2 separate regions of the Homo sapiens genome follow, and region 2 is linked to region 1. The links come from fine-mapping of genetic effects on gene expression. Tissue or cell type: putamen. Region 1 holds a variant in brackets; the other region holds the start of a gene. All regions are shown on one strand. Distances are from middle to middle.

Region 1 (8,102 bases):
TCTTGGGGCCAAGCCTTATTCTCCAAAACCCAGGCCCTGCAGGTAGGGGATCCCAAAGCCAAAGCCCTTGTGAGGTGGCGTTGGACTTGTTCTTGTCACCTGCTGACACATCTGGTCCTGCGAGAAGGAAGTGGATTCTAGAAGCAGTGCCTGTTCCGGAGCAGCTGCCTTGCTGAGTGACAGGGTGCACCCAGCGGCAGCTGCACAGCTTCTCAAGCTACCGGATCCTGCTCTTTGCCAAAGAGGACCTGAGGCTCCTCCCGGGATAGGAGGGTCCGGGCTCTGCCCACTGCTCCCGGTCACCCTCTGCCTCTGCACAGGGCACCCCAGGGCCTGTGGAGGGGATGTCCACAATGTTGGCAGAGCCTGGGTCCTTCGCCAGCTGGAGCTCTGCTCAGCCACTGAGCTGGGAGGAAACAACCCCTTGCCCAGAGCTGGCTGGAGGGGTCAGCACGCACAGCTGCTGGAGTTACCCTCTGCACCAAGTATCACCAGAAACGGGCATGCTGCTGTCCTGGACAGCGGCCTCATGACCTGCTTACATTTTTAAAAACTTGTGAAATATCTGAAACAAAAAAGCAAATATGTGTAAAATATATATGAAATATATTCTGTAAAATAATGTTTGACTCCAGTGCACACACAACCCAATTCAAAACCAGATCAACTTCCTGCTGATCTGATGGCCTGCCCTCCGCCTTGGCCCAGAGGGAACAGTTTATGTTTTTATTGATCATTCCCTTGCCTTTTAAAAGGGTTTATCATATATATGTGTATAATTGTGTGTATACATTTATTTCAAGAGATACATTTTCTTTAAGGCTTGTCTGTGAGATTTATAAACTAGTCTTCCACCACATGTAATCTCCTACAGCTTACTTGGTTGACGCTTCAAATCTCTCAGCTTCATTCATGCCATGGCTCCAATTGTTCATGTTCTCAGCTGCATAGTATTCCATCATGTGAACATGCCACTCTGCATTTCTTCGTTTTTCTTCATACAGATGTTTGGGTTGATTACGGTTTTTCATAAACAGCTGTGCTGTGGATGGCACTCCTGCAGCTGGTGCCTGTGCACACGTGCAGAGCTTCTCTAGGGGAATGTGCTCGGGAGAGGAATGGCTGCTCAGAGGGCGGGGGTATCCTGAACTCCATGGGATGATACCAAGTGACCATCCAACATCCTTCTTGGAACATTTAACCAGAGTGAGCTCTAAGTGTGCATGGGTATTTGTAGGGGATCTAGGCTTGACTCTAGAACGATAAGGAAGGGGCGTCATTACCTAGCAGGATCAGCACAGATGTTGGGGTGATGGACTCAGGCCCTAGTCTAGACATCCTGGTGAAAAGTGAGGTGATTCAGGGCAAAGCACTTACCTGTCCTGGGATGGCGGAGATACAGTATCTAACAGGATGTTGTGGGCGTCAGGGGTCTCAATATATGTGGAGGTGCTTGATCAAGAGCAGACATGTTGGCTTTTGTTGATGATGTTACCTGTTTCCTAAAACACTTGCTAAAGATGCCAGTGCCCTGATGTAGAGACCAACACGAGGAAAGTGGCCTGATCAGACCACGCCAAGCTGTTCACACCCCCTTGAGAGTCCTGGGCTGATCATTCAGGCTTGACAGCAGCATGAGGAGCACAAAAGACTGAAATGAGCAGCTCCTAGAGGACGCCTCCCCCAGTGCTGGACGGCACGGGGGTTCTCTCTCGGAACCAAGGCCTGGCCAGGCCGTGCCCAGCACACCCACTACCTGGCTTTTCACTTCTGTTGTGACTCAGTTGTTTTCTGCACCATTTGGTCACAAATTCTGTTTTCATTTTTTTTCTTCTTTGAGACAGAGTCTCACTCAGTCACCCGAGCTGGAGTTCAGTAGCGTGATCTGGGCTCACTGCAACCTCTGCCTCCCAGGTTCAAACTATTCTCCTGCCTCAGCCTTCTGAGTAGCTAAGACTACAGGCACATGTCATCATGCCTGGCTAATGTTTTGTATTTTTAGTACTAATGGGGTTTCAACATGTTGGCCAGGCTGGTCTCAAACTCCTGACCTCGGATGATCCACCTGTCTCAGCCTCCCAAAGTGCTGCGATTACGGGCATGAGCCACCGTGTCAGGCCCCCAAATTCTTTTTTTTTTTTTTTAATAACTTAAAACAGTTCTTTTCAGAAATGCTTTTCTCCAGCTGGTTTGTCAGAACCACATTCCTGCAAGGTTGGGCCAGAATGCTGTGCCCCGAGCAGCTCCATCTACTCTGCCAACAGCAGCCCTCCAGCCTCTGCGGGAAGCACGCCTCCCCACGCCAACACCCTGTAGACTCCTGGCCCCGTGGACTGTCAGGCAGTTATTTTGGCCTGGGACGTGGCTCTGCTAACTGGCTGCTGTGTTTTTCCAGTTGTGAGAAGAGCTTCCAGGGGAGTTCTTCAGATAATCATCATCTTGATCTTAAATGTAAATATTGTCACCGTGGTTTAAAGAGAGATTAATGATTTGCCGACAGCTCCATACATCCTTAGGAAGTGAACACTTGATTGTCTATCTTATTTCCAATAATACTAGAGGAAAAGGCACACCCTACAGGTGGCTGCAGGTGCCACCGGAGCTTGGAGCGAGTGAAGGCCGAGCCTCGGACTCGGGTATCATTTCTGAATAGCTCGCCAACTGTGAAGGAAGTTCTGCGGTTCTCTGTCACGGAGGAAAACAGCAGTGAGTGCCATCCGCCAGGCTGTGTGCCAGGTGTCCCGTAATCCCGTCTTTACCTTCTGGAGGAGCTGCGAGGCGGCGTCATTAGCTCCGTTTCAGAGAAGAGAAGGCGGAGGGCAAAGCAGGTTTGCTGAGGCATGGCCAGTCATGGGCAGTGTCCAGAGCCAAACCCGGGGCTTGCCACATCCGGCTCCCCTGACCTCGGCCACCACCAGTCTGTGGAAGCCCAGGCACTCCCAGGGGGAAGCTCCAGCCCTCAGGCCATGTCAGCACCTCCCTGTGGCTCCGACGGGCTCTGAGCCCATGGTCCCCTGACCTGGCTGCCCCTGCCTCAAGGTGCCGGGGTAGCAAGGCAGATGGCCCCTGGATAGTTCCCTTTTTGTTGTCCCCACGTGGCCTACAGCTGGCTAAGCAGGGCAGGGTGTGTGGCCGGCAGCCCTGGGGCTTCAGAACAGGTGTCTCAATTATGCCACCGCCTCCAAGACCCATCCCTCCTGATGCAGCCAGGCCCGCGGCTCTACCAGGGACACTGTGCGAGCATCAATGCCGGGAGGACTGGGACATTACACTCTACATCTGAATTTCTTATATTTTCCAAGTGTTCTACACTAATTAGTTAGTTCTGTTAGCTCTAAGGATTAGTAGCTTCTCTAACAAGACACAGCGACATTAAGTGACTTACCTAATTATGTAAAACACGGGGACACTAGACGAGAAGGCAAGCTTTCCTCGAGCTGGGCTCAGGCCTGCTCCGCCCCACTGCAGCGCCCATCCGTCTTCTTTCTCTGGGTCCCCAGGGCACAGGAAACAGGAACCGCAGGTCTGGCCTCAGAGACTACTCCACACGGAGTGTTGCCACACCTA[C/T]GTCCTCGGGCCTGCCCTCCTTACGGCCTGCCTCCTTGGCCAGGACCACAGGGCCTCTCAGATGCTTCCTGGACAGAGGAGCTGACTTGAAAGAGAGCCTGTCCCAGGGCAGTAGGTGCTGGGCAGGCCTGGAGGCTCCATCACATGTGGCCGGGGTGCTGGGCCCACTGTGTCCCCTGTGAAAGAGAGTAGATGACCACCACGTCCTGCTGTCCTCTGACTGGTCACCATCTGAAATGTCACTAAGAACTGGCCCCACATTGCCTGTGCTCATGGCAAAGGGGTCTGCCCTCTCCCAGCCTGGCCCTCCAGTCCCCAAGTCTCATCTTGTAGGGACCGTGGCACCTGGGCCCTCCTCTCCTCTTCCCTGGAGTCCAGTTGCTTCTTTTACTCAAGATGCCCTCTATGTCCTGCCCAGCTCCAGCTGATGCAGTTTGATTGCCACCTCCTTCAGGACGCCCCTCTTCATTTTCTAGTTCACCCTTTCCCCTCCCTCTGAGACCTCACAGCCCTGAAGTGATACTGCATTTATGTTGATGTGCTATCTGATGACAGGCTGGGCATGACCTCACCTGGAGTATTTGTGCTCAGCTGCCCTGCAAGTGGAGAGGCGAAGCTGATAAACAGCTGGTCAAGCACGTGACACCAGTCACGTGGTCAGATGCGTGGGCCCATGCTGTCTTCTTAGTACATGTGTCAGGGTCCTTCCTCTTCACCCAGTAAGTGTGTTCTTTTATGATTACAAACATAATGCATTTCCATGGCAAAAATTGAGAATGTACAGTTAAGCACACAAAAAATGAAGTGATTTCCTCGTGCTGAGATAATCACTGAAGCACCTTGCTCTGCAGATGGTCTTTTTAAAAAATGTTACAACATGGCCATATATATAGTTTTAAAACACAATCATGGATCATATTTTCAAAGTGATAACAACTATTTCTTTCTTAGAAAATAAAGACATTTTTATAAGAGTTGAATAACTCTGAAAAGCAACACAACACACACACAGACACACTCACTCACAGACACACAAAGCAATTCTTCCCAACTCACTCACACACAGGCCCACACACCAAAGCGACTCTGCACAACTCACTCACACACAGGCCCACACACCAAAGTAATTCTCCCCAACTCACTCACACATAGGCACACAACCAAAGCAGCTCTCTCCAACTGTCCAACTTCCACTAAGATGTCTTCCTGCAAATAATCTGATGATCTCTCTTCCACAATTTTATGTCTGTAAGCACAATTTAAAAATTTAGTTTAATAAAACACCACTGATCGTACCTGATGTTTTCTTTTCTTTTTTTTTTTTTGAGACAGAGTCTTGCTCTGTCACCCAGGCTGGAGTGCAGTGGTGCGATCTCGGCTCACTGCAAGCTCTGCCTCCCAGGTTCATGTCATTCTCCTGCCTCAGCCTCCCAAGTAGCTGAGACTACAGGCGCCCGCCACCATGCCCAGCTAATTTTTTTTTGTATTTTTAGTAGAGACGGGGTTTCACCGTGTCAGCCAGGATGGTCTCGATCTCCTGACTTTGTGATCTGCCCGCCTCGGCCTCCCAAAGTGCTGGGATTACAGACGTGAGCCACCGCACCCAGCCTGATGTTTTCTTATATGCCTTTTTCACTCAGCAGTGAGTCATGACTACCTTCCCATGTCAGTAAATAGAGGGCTACTCTACCACGTTTAATAGCAGAATTGTTCTGTGTTGTGTGGACATATTTACTGGGATGTATCCAGCCAACCCCATGCCCATGGGACATTTGTGCTGTTCCCCATTTGTTGCTGTTACAAACAACAGTGCCATGTGTATCCTTGTAGCTACAGCCTTATATACTCATGGAAATAACTCTGTAGAATAGATTCCTAAAAGTGGAATTGTTTGGTCAAATGGCATAGGCATTTACCATTTTAATCAATACTGCCTCACTACCCTCCAAAAACATGCCAACATTACTACCAACAGTGAATGCCTGCCCCTTCTCTACACTGTGGACAAAGAATTACACGTCGTTTGCATTTTTCACCCAGATCACAACAAAATGCTATCTCCTGCTTTAATTTGTCATGCTATGATCACTCGTGAGGTGGGAGGTCCCCTGGAGGTCACTCCAGGTGATCACTCTCAAGCTTACTGGGTCCTTCTGCTGCTCTTTCTAGAGGCTTCCAGCTGCTGCTTGTATGTTTCCCTTTACGAAGTGCCTGTCTATATTCCTTGCTCATCTATCTTCTGGGTGGTTTGCCTTTTCCTTATTGATTTGTAGAAGTTTTTTATATATTGTGGACACAATCTTTCTGTCTTACATGTTGCCAATGGTTTCTCCTAGGGTACCATTTGTCTTCTGTTTCCAACAGGTTCATGAGGTCAGGCAAGTCAACCTTCTTCTTTATGACTTCTGAGTTCTTTTTTTTTGAGATGGAGTCTCGCTGTGTCACCCAGGCTAGAGTGCTGGAGTGCAGTGGCTCGATCTCGGCTCACTGCAAGCTCCACCTCCCGGGTCCACGCCATTCTCCTGCCTCATCCTCCCGAGTAGCTGGGACTACAGGCGCCCGCCACTACGCCCAGCTAATTTTTTCTATTTTTTAGTAGAGATGGGGTTTCACTGTGTTAGCCAGGATGGTCTCGATCTCCTGACCTCGTGATCCGCCCACCTTTGCCTCCCAGAGTGCTCGGATTACAGGCGTGAGCCACTGTGCCCGGCCAGCTTCTGAGTTCTTGCCGTGTTCTCAGGCACTTCCTGCAAATGCAGACATGGATGCATGTTTCTCCTATTTTCAGCTGATACAGTAACAGTTAAAACCCAATTTAACAAATGTTTAGAACCCTAAGGTTTCTGGAATTGCGTTATTTCCAAATAGCTTGGCCAGTTTGTCCTGATACCATGTATTAAATGACTCCTTTCCCCACGGAACTGAAATGCCATATGATGACATCCTGAGATTCCACAGACCTGTGGCTGTTTCTGGACGGGCCAGTTGGCTCCATTGATCTACTTATGTCTGTTGTGGCATTGGCCCTACAATGCTTTATTTACAGTGGCTTTAGGATTCATTTTGATGCCATTAGTATTAAAAATGTACCTTGCTGTTTTTGAGCAAATACATGTCCCCAGTGACCAAGCTTAGCTGTGAATGTTGTCGTGGACATCAGAGGCAGGCCTAGCCAGTGGGGGGCATGGGCTTTGGGAATCCTTATTTGTTGCTGCTTTTAAAAATGTGGCTCATAAATGCCCCTGGCATTTGCTGTCAGAGAGGCCCTTCTGAGTGTCCCTGACATAGGGCACAGTCTCGCAGGGTGGCCACCTTAAGCTGCAACCCCAGTTATAGGTTCGTCAAAGATCCAGTTGTGATGTTACACACCCATGCCAGGTGCACATCACAATCCCACGAACCTCCATGTTCAACAGCTTTCCATCCAGAAAAGACGCTGCATAAATTCCCCACCCTTCAGGGACGGCCTAGGGTACTGAAGTCAGTGGTCTGGGCATTACCCCGTCATACAAAATGACAGGCACGTTGCATGGGCAACGGAAAGAACTTTCCATTAAATGCCAAAGAAGACCTGCAGGGTGGACACGTGCCTGCTTTTCCTCAGGTGAGGCAGCTGTGGCTTCTGAGAGCAAATACATCCCTGAGGGTCCCACAGCTAGGAATTAGGGACTGGAACCTGGGCTTGTCTGATGCAAAAATCTAACCTGAAGCCGCCACCACAATCTGAGCACTCTGCACATGCCAGGAAGCCAAGGAGCCGCCACCACAATCTGAGCACTCTGCACATGCCAGGAAGCCAGGTCGCCTTCACTGGAACCTGGGTATGGCCTCGTGAGGGCGGCCGCTGCCATCCCTGTTCTGCAGGTGAGGTGGCTGCAGGAGCTCCTGGGGCTGCTGCAACAAATTCCACCAACTGGGGGGATGAAAGCAGCAGAAATGTCTTCTCCTACAGTTCTGGAGTTTGTAATCAGGTGCTGGCGGGACCAGACTCCCTCCGAAGGCGTGAGGGGAGCAGTCTCCTTTCCCTCCCCCAGCTGCTGGTGACTCCAGGTGTTTCTCAGCTGGTGGCTGCCATCACTTCCATCTCTGCCTCTGTCTTTGCATGGCTTTCTCCATTGCGTCTGTGTCTTCCCCTTTTCTCTTTTTTGGAGGCAGGGTTTTTTCTCTGTCGCCCAGGCTGGGGTACAGTGGTGTTATCATAGCTCACCGTAGCCTTGACCACCTGGGCTCAAGTGATCCTCCTCCATCTTCAGCCTTCTGAGTAGTTGGGACTACAGGTGTGTGCCACCTGCCTGGCCAATCTTTAAAGTATTTTTTAGAGAGACAAGGTCTTGCTAAGTTGCCCAGACTGGTTTCAACTCCTGGCTTTAAGTAATCCTCCTGCCTTGGCATCCCAAAGTATTAGGATCACAGGCGTGAGCTGCTGCATCCGGCCCTTTTCTGTCTATTATAAGGGCAACTGTCATTGGATTTAGGACCCACCAGGATAATCCAGCATGATCTCATCTTGAGCTCCTTAACGTAATCATATCTGG
Region 2 (8,102 bases), 320 kb after region 1:
AAACAAGACAACCCTCTCAAAAGGAAAGAAGGGGTGAAATATGATACGGGTTGCCCGTGCTTCGCGTGTGTTTGTAAAACTGACGCCAAAGTTTTGGTAACATCTGCATCTTGTCATAACCACAAAACTGAAAACTCAAAAGCAATAATAACATGTTGGGTTTGCAATTTGAAGAGATTCACGTCTCTCAGGAGTTACAAAACCGTACTCAGACCCATATGCACAGAAAACCTGCAGCAATGCCAACTGCCGATGGATACTTCTGGAAGGGGGACTCGGATCTTGCCTGGGCTGGAGAGTGCTACTTCCCAGAGGATCCTAAGGCCTTCCCTAGAGGTGCTCAAGCATTAGGGTCTGCCAGAATCCCCTGGCATCCCCAGGTTCTGGTCCTGTAGGTCTCCCATGGGGCCCTGCAATCGAGAGACCTCTCTAGCCAGCACCCACAGTAATTCTGATGCAGAGGGCCCAGGTCACCCTCAAACGCTCCTCCACTGTTGCCTGTGAAGATCCCACTTTACGGAGAGCAACAGGTTCAAGGGGCTGTGACTCGTCAGGCCTTGCTGGAATCGCATTCCAGTAGTGGCTCTTACCCCACACAAGCAGGAGAGACACCTGAACATGATATCCCCGGCTGCCCACCGGAGTCCTCTTGACTGGGAAGTACAATGTAGCTAAAAGTTTAAAAACAAATGATAAATAACTAGCGATTATTTATTGCATTTCAACATATAATGCCCCATCTCCTTCTCTGCCCTGAGATTCATTCACTCTCTTCACCCACCTAAATATCTCTGAACATCCCGTGCCAGAATTGCCTGATCCGTCAATAAGGCAAGCGCTTTCTAAACCTCTATGCATATGACTCAATTTGTCAGTAAAAACTGCCACCCGCGCTGTGCTTGCAGAAAAATGTCCATAAACACATTATTGCGACTGGCAGAACGATGTCTATAATAAAAACACATAGATTTAACAAGTACCTCCTTTCACAAGCCACGCCGCTGGTGGACTATCCATTCGGTGTCCCCCAGCCCAGACTTCTGGGAATGGGCGGCAGGGCTGGGTGGGAGCCTCTGCTGACTTCGCAAGCATCACAGGTAGGAAATTATTCTACCAAGAAACTTTTAGGAGTAGGAGAGTGAACACACCAGGCATTTATTGCACTCTCACCATTCCTTTCATGGTTACACACACTATGACTAATTTAACAACCCTAAGAAAATGTTTTTGTAGAATTTTTTACTGGTTTTAGAACAGCTACCTCCAGGTGGGGTGAAGGGGACACGAGGCCTCCTTGGAGAACCCTGCTCTGCTGCTGAGCCACTGATTTAACTGAAAACAACTTGTGGTGTCAAAACCAAGTTTCACCATTCAGAGCATCCGCATGGGCAGCTCCCAGGGCGGCCTATTCAGTTACTTAGCTGGAGGAGCTTCGGGAGCGCAGGCTGCTGAGGACTGGCTTTGCTGCCGGGACCGAGCACCTTGGCAGGACTCAGTGTTTGATTCCTTTCCGGGTGATCCACACCTGCCAAAGCCACTCTAATACTTCAAAGATCAACAAAGTCACAAAAATGATTTCTTCCTCTTCATAAATCACTTCAATAGCTCTATGAAGAAGTCAGTCATTCATTACATTCCATACTATATTCATTAGTTTCCCCCAAACTATGCAGCCCTCCGATATAAGCTGTACTGTTAATTTTTTTAAGTCAAAAGAAAACTAGACTATGTCCACCAACCAGCAGATATGCAGCAGTTAATGAAAAGCCACAGAACACACATCTTGCAACATTTGGTCCACAACACAAGGTCTCCAACTTCTACTTACCTATGTCCAAGACAGGCCTGCAGAGCTAACAGCGTAGGTTCACAAAATCCTCATGCCAACCAAGGACCCTCCTGCACAGCTCAAACCTCCTCCCTCCCATATAAATCCTTTCACTTCAAAACAAGAGTGGGGCGAAGGGCTGGCTTGTGCATCATGAGTGTCTATATAAAGACCACTCTCACCCCACAGTCAGGTGATGGTTTATGTGTCTTCTCTGATTTTAAATCCTTCAGGTTTCGTTTAAATAATATCCTGCGAGGCCAGGCATGGTGGCTCATGCCTATAATTCCAGCACTTTGGGAGGCCTAGGAGGGAAGATCACTTGAGTCCAGGAGTTCGAGACCACCCTAGGCAACATACGGAGACCCTGGCCTCTAAAAACAACAACAACAACAATTAGCCAGGTATGGTGGCGCACACCTGTAGTCCCTGGTACTTGGGAGGTCAAAGCAGGAGGTTCGCTTGAGCCCAGGAGCTTGAGGCTGCAGGGAGCTATGATCTCACCACTGCACTCCAGCCTGGGCGAAAGACCAAGACCTTGTCTCTAAAAATAATAAAATAATATTCTGCGGTAAGACCCCAGCTCTTTCAGAAAGTAGCTGCATTAAAAACTACTTGTCCCAGGAAACAGAGGGTCAGGAAGGACCGTAGCAACAGCCCAAGAGCCGAATGAGCACAGGGCCCTGCAGGGTCTGGGAGGCTCAATGTGTCCCCTGGAGGGACTAGAGTCCCAAACGGAAGTCAAAAATCTCAGGGCAAGTGGATCTGGACATGGAACTTTATGCTGGGGAAGGGGGTCAGAATGAAGTGCAGAAACAAGAATAATGCTAAAGGAAAAGATAATGCAGAAAATTCAGTTTTGCCTCCATTTTTTTTCTATCAAAGAGAATATACTGAAAAGAGCATTAGCACCAAAAAGAAAAATGGAAGGTCTGAATCACTGGCTCCTAAATGTGTGTCCTCTGCAAAACAGAACAGACAATTTAGTAACTTTATTTTATTATAAAATACTGAAAGAGTCAGGGTTTTGGTGTCCTAAGAAAGGGTGGGAAGAGGACTGGAGAGGAACAAACTCTGAGGGGGCAATGGGGAAGGCAAGTTCTTTTTCAGGCCCTTCCTACCCCCTTCTTCCCTGCAAAAGGACAGAGGAGGCCCTGATTGAGACACCTGGGGAGGAAACCCAAACAACGAAAAGTAAGGCCCAGGTGATATCAAAGTAAGACCTCAACAAGGTTCAAGAATCTGAGCAGCTGAACAAGGTGCTACCCAATGTATACCTAGGGCTCTATTTCTTTCAACCTTACTAACAGCAAAGCCTTTTTAAAGTAGTGCCTAATACTATTAGTTAAATCCTTATTTTGATACAGATTTTTTTGTTTCCCCTTCAGGACAGTTTCACTCTCGTCGCCCAGGTTGGAGTGCAATGGCGCAATCTCGGCTCACTGCAACCTCCGCCTCCCAGGTTCAAGCAATTCTCCTGCCTCAGTCTCCCAAGTAACTGGGATTACCAGCATGCACCACCACGCCTGGATAATTTTTGTGTTTTTAGTAGAAACTGGGTTTCACCATGTTGGCCAGGCTGGTCTCAAACTCCTGACTTCAGGTGATCCACCCACCTCGGCCTCCCAAAGTGCTGAGATTACAGGCGTGACCCACTGTGCCTGGCCCAGATTTTTTTTTTTTAATGAAGATATATACATTGAAAAGTACCTGAGTATAGCTCCGTACTGGTGGTCTACTTCATCCAGGCCCCTGACTGTGGCAGACACTACTCCACTATTCAAATTCCAACCCGAGACAGAGGGCCCAGGAAGAAAGACACGCGGCAGAGCAAGGCCAGCTCTCCTCTGCTACTTGCAGGCAGACTCCGGGTCTGGGCAAGTATCCTGGCCCTCTGAGTTAACGTGATATTAACAATCAGCCAGGCTCTTGACGCGGTTTCCTTCAAAGTTTTCACACCCCCACCCACCAGGTGCGCTAAGCTTTGGGTTTTTAAAATCTTGTTCATCTCCCAGAGTGTTTTAGCCATTGAGAGGGCCCTGAAAATAACAAAACCATCTCCTAGACACCTGCCCAGGGATGGGGGAGATGACGGGAGAGCCTGACTTAACAGATACTCTATAGGTTTCTATTTGGATGTCTATGTAAATAACCAGTCTAATTCTCAGCTCTCTGTGCTTAACATTCTACTGAGAACAGCTCTCTGGACCAAGCCGCTTCCCTGTCTGATGATGATCTCAGCAGGCATAGGTTGCACACACATGTACAAAGTCTGCTTTCCAGGACAGAAAGCCAGCTACTCAGCTGAAGCAACTGAGAGCAAACACCACCCTGAGATTTCAGGAGATGATGAACCCAGGAGTGCGAAATACATAGTTCAGAACTCCTCTGCGGTGTTATAACCGACATTACGGTGCCCAGTGTGTGTGGCTCTCCAGCGAGCCTTGCTTACTCTAAGTGTTGATGAATACAGTTAGGGTATGATGTACACAAACACCAGCCATAGTAACCAGAAGGCCCCTAGAACTTGGCCTCCAGCAGGAAGGAAATATGGGACTCTGCCTAAGTATGCTAAAGGGTTGCTGCAAGCCAAGGCCCGCGCAGGGGCTTCTGGAAGCTTCCTGGAGCAGCTGGCGGAGGGAAAGCTGGCAGCATGGAAGGGTAGGAAGAACCCGGGGCCCGGGCCTGGGGCTGGCACCTAGAGGTAAGGCAGGGGCTGCCACGACCCCCGCCACACGCCAGTCCACAGTCACTGCAGCGCAGCCTAGTCCAGGAACCCCAGGCCCGGGGAAAGGCTGGGCAACACCTGGGAGGCACTTGGGGCGCACCTGGAGCTCGCCCGGGATGGGTGGGGGTCAGGGCGGCCCCACACCCGACGGCGAAGTGAGGGCGCCTGCAGGACCACTCGAGGCTGCCACCGTCCCGAGGGAGAGCTCCGCACTCTTCCGGGAGCGAGGCGACCCAGACACTCACCAAGTCGCAAACGGTGCGCACCGCGAGGACCTGCGGGCGTCGGGACGCAAAGCGTTCTAGGGGCGCGGGCTGTCCCAGCATATCCGGGGCGCGGGGGCGGGGCCGAGGGGCACGGGGATGGCGGCGTGGGGCGGGGTCTAGAGCGGGGCGGAGCCGAGGACCTGAGAAAAGCAAGAGAGCGCGCGGGGGCGGGGCCGGGGCGCGCGGGGGCGGAGCTGGGGCGGAGCCCGGGAGGGGCGGGGTGTTCCCGCCCGACCGGGTCGGCGCATGCCCTGTGCGGCGGCGCCGGGCCTGAGGCAGTCTGCGCATCCTCGCTGGACGCCGGCACGCCGGCCCTGGTCCTCCGGCAGCGCCGCTGCCCTGTGCGCCTGACCCGGATGGCCCTTCGGCCGGTACAAGCCGGGCGGCGCCTTCCCAGCTTCCGCCTGAGGCTCTGTGCCTTAGTTTGCCAAATGGCCCGTACCTTTTCCTGTCACAGGGATAGTCCGCGGGCGTGCAAGCGACCTGCCACGTGCCCGAGTGGTCCTGAAAGCGCGCGGGGGTCGTAGGACGGCGCCCGCTTAGTGAGAATCCCGGTCCTGCTCGGGGCGGCTACGCTGAGCCCGGAGCGCGAGTCTCTCCCCTCCTGGTGCCGCTCCCCTAGTCAGGGACCCCCAGACCAGCAGAGACCCTGTCAGGGGGCCGTGGGGGCAGCCTCCAGGGCCTGTGGTGGGCGATGCCGTCCAGGGGCTGCAGTCACCGATGGCCTAGACACTGCCAGAGCCTGACTCAGCCGCTCTCCAGAGAGCACACAGGGTGCCAGGCCCTGCTTGGGGTTGTGTGGACGTTATTAGGAGTTGAATTGTGTCCACCAGAGAAGCTATGTTGGAGTCCTAACTCCCAGTACCTCACAATGTGACCTTATTTGGAGATGGGGACTTTACAGAAGCCATCAATTAGTGGGCCCCTCATCCAGTATGACTCGTGTCCTTATAGGCAGAAGGCCGCTTGGGGAGGAGGATTGGAGGGCTGCACCTGCAAGCCACCAGAAGCCTAAGAGGACAGACCCTTCCCTGGAGCCTTCGGAGGGAGCAGAGGACACTCTTCCCTGGAGCCTTCAGAGGGAGCAGGATCCTAACACACCTGGGTTTCAAACTTCTGGCCCCCGGAAGTGTGAGACAATAGGTTTCTGTTGTTTTAAGCCACTCAGTGTGTGGCACTTTATTATGGCAGCCCCAGGCAATGGGTACAGAAACCATTGTCTCTAACGTGGTTGGCATAAGCACCCCAGGGAGTAGTATCATCCCTGGAGGCTTCGGAGAGGTCACACACCCCTTGGCAGGATCCCATCCAAGGCCCACATGTTCTAAGCCACCATGCTACGGGCCTTCTAGGTTCTGTTTGTTATCTTAATGGAAAGGGGTCTTCACCTTCCCGGTGAAGTTTCCCTGTTGGGATTCGGCCAATGCTCATACCTTCGTATTTGTGACTTGCAGGATCCAACATATTAGCATGAGTGATAAGGGTTGTTCAGAGGAGAACTTCAGCAGGATTTGCTTTGGGATGAGCCCTGGTGACAATACAGGCTGCATCATTGATCCTCTGAGGTTCCCCACCCCGACCCTGCCTTGGATGAGACATGTTTTAAATAGCTGCTTGTGGGAAATAAACTAGGCCCTGAGTACACGATATAATGGTCAAATCAAGGCACTTTTTCCCCACTGAACCTGGACACAGCCTCGGAATCCTTCTCAACACTGTGTTCCAAGCAGCCATTCACATTTAAACTAATGTGGAAGGACAGATGAAACATGTTTGCCCTTGGCTCTGGTTTTTTCCATTAGCCTTCTATAAGACTTCGGGAAACTCGTCTGACTTCTCTAATCCTCAGTTTCATACTCTGTAAAGGAGTCTCATGATAACGTACCCTACGTGTGTACAAACTATCCTTCCATATTAGGGCATGTGTGCATAGGGAAAATAAACCACCAGCACCACACCACACTACTAAGAAATAATGCTATACACCTGGCCACTTACAGCCTGTTACTACCAGGACCCAGTTAGAACCGGGATCTTAATAGAACCAAAGGAAAAACAATGCCGAAATGGAATCAGAGTGCCGACTGATATTCTAACAAGTGTGCTGTTAAGTAGTTTTGCAGTTAACACATGACTCATACGTTTATCTGAATAATATTTTAAGACGAATCCCTAAACTCTTAAGAAAAAGAGACTGGCCAGTCTTAGCATCTCTAATTCCCCACCCTAGGAAAGAAAGGCCAATGTGGTCATCCAAAGGCCCTTTAGGAGGGCCCTGTGGGAATGGGGAGGCGGTCCACGAGAGAAAGTGCTGGCTTCCCAGGGAGATGTGTGGACCTGGCCCTGGCTGTACTGAAAGAACTCAGTCCCCTTGCTGGCGTGGTGGGAAGAACTATGTGAAGGGCCACAGCTACTTCAGTGGTAAGGACTGTGTCAGGGGCTCCAGGATCAGGAGCCAAATAAGGGTCTCAGTGCAGAGGGGAAAGAGGAAAAAGGCCACCACCTGACCAAGGACTGGCCTGCAAAAGACCAGGATTCAAGGATGTGACTGCTTAGGCTGTCTGATGAGCAGAACTCAAACTCACACTCCTTACACCTGCTGGTGCAAGCTCCTCCCTTCATCATGGTAATTTCAAAAACCCAAGTTTTCATCAAGAGCTCCCCACGCCTCTCCCCCTTGTCCCATTACAATCTCATCATCGCCTGTGTGTTCGTCCTACTGTTAAAGGAACACAGGATGGCTCCAAAGCCGGGAGGTCGCCGGGTCCACTGAAGAGTAAGGAACACAGGACAGGGAGGCTCGGATGTGGTGCCAGCCCTGCCCCTCACTGAGCAACCACCTGACTTCTCTGTTCATAGGATGACAGTGCAGGACTGGTTGGGTGAGATTCCTTTGAGGTCTCCCATCTTCAGATTAACAAATCACAACCCCTTTTCCTCCAGACACAGATTCCTATGAAGAACTTTTTACAAAAGAGGTGGGAAAACCACAAAAGGGTATGCTCAACTGCAGTCCGACTTCCTCAAGGAGCTCCCTGGATTTCCTTTAAGATCAGCCAGCTTTCTTGTGGGCACTGGGAACAATGTTAATCTGCATAGTTTCTTTAAACATCCAAATGGATACCTTTCGGGTTAAGCAAATGAACATGACATGCGATTGCTTCTAATGATTTGCAACCCAAGAAATTTGTTTAATAAGCCTGTCTTCCCAAGCTACTTTTGTGACATTAGAGACCACTTACAACAAAGCTGCCTTCAGTAGTCAAACTTAATCCTTACT

What was found. PIP is the estimated chance that this variant, and not a neighbour inherited with it, causes the effect.
Region 2: MGMT starts here. The variant in region 1 is fine-mapped to the expression of MGMT in putamen (GTEx, PIP 0.91).

What each region holds. Positions count from the first base shown.
Region 1 is chr10:129,780,590-129,788,691 of GRCh38, reverse strand. It overlaps LOC107984281 (a long non-coding RNA gene), which reads right to left. Exons shown (of 11, transcript NR_186705.1): 2 at 3,386-3,743. Among named protein-coding and RNA genes, the nearest start is that of MIR4297, 59 kb to the left of the region's middle. The variant C/T (reference allele first, on the strand shown) is at 3,568.
Region 2 is chr10:129,463,996-129,472,097 of GRCh38, reverse strand. It overlaps MGMT (O-6-methylguanine-DNA methyltransferase), which reads right to left and starts at 4,857. Exons shown (of 5, transcript NM_002412.5): 1 at 4,802-4,857. RefSeq lists silencers at 4,558-4,757, 4,778-5,217 and an enhancer at 4,069-4,991.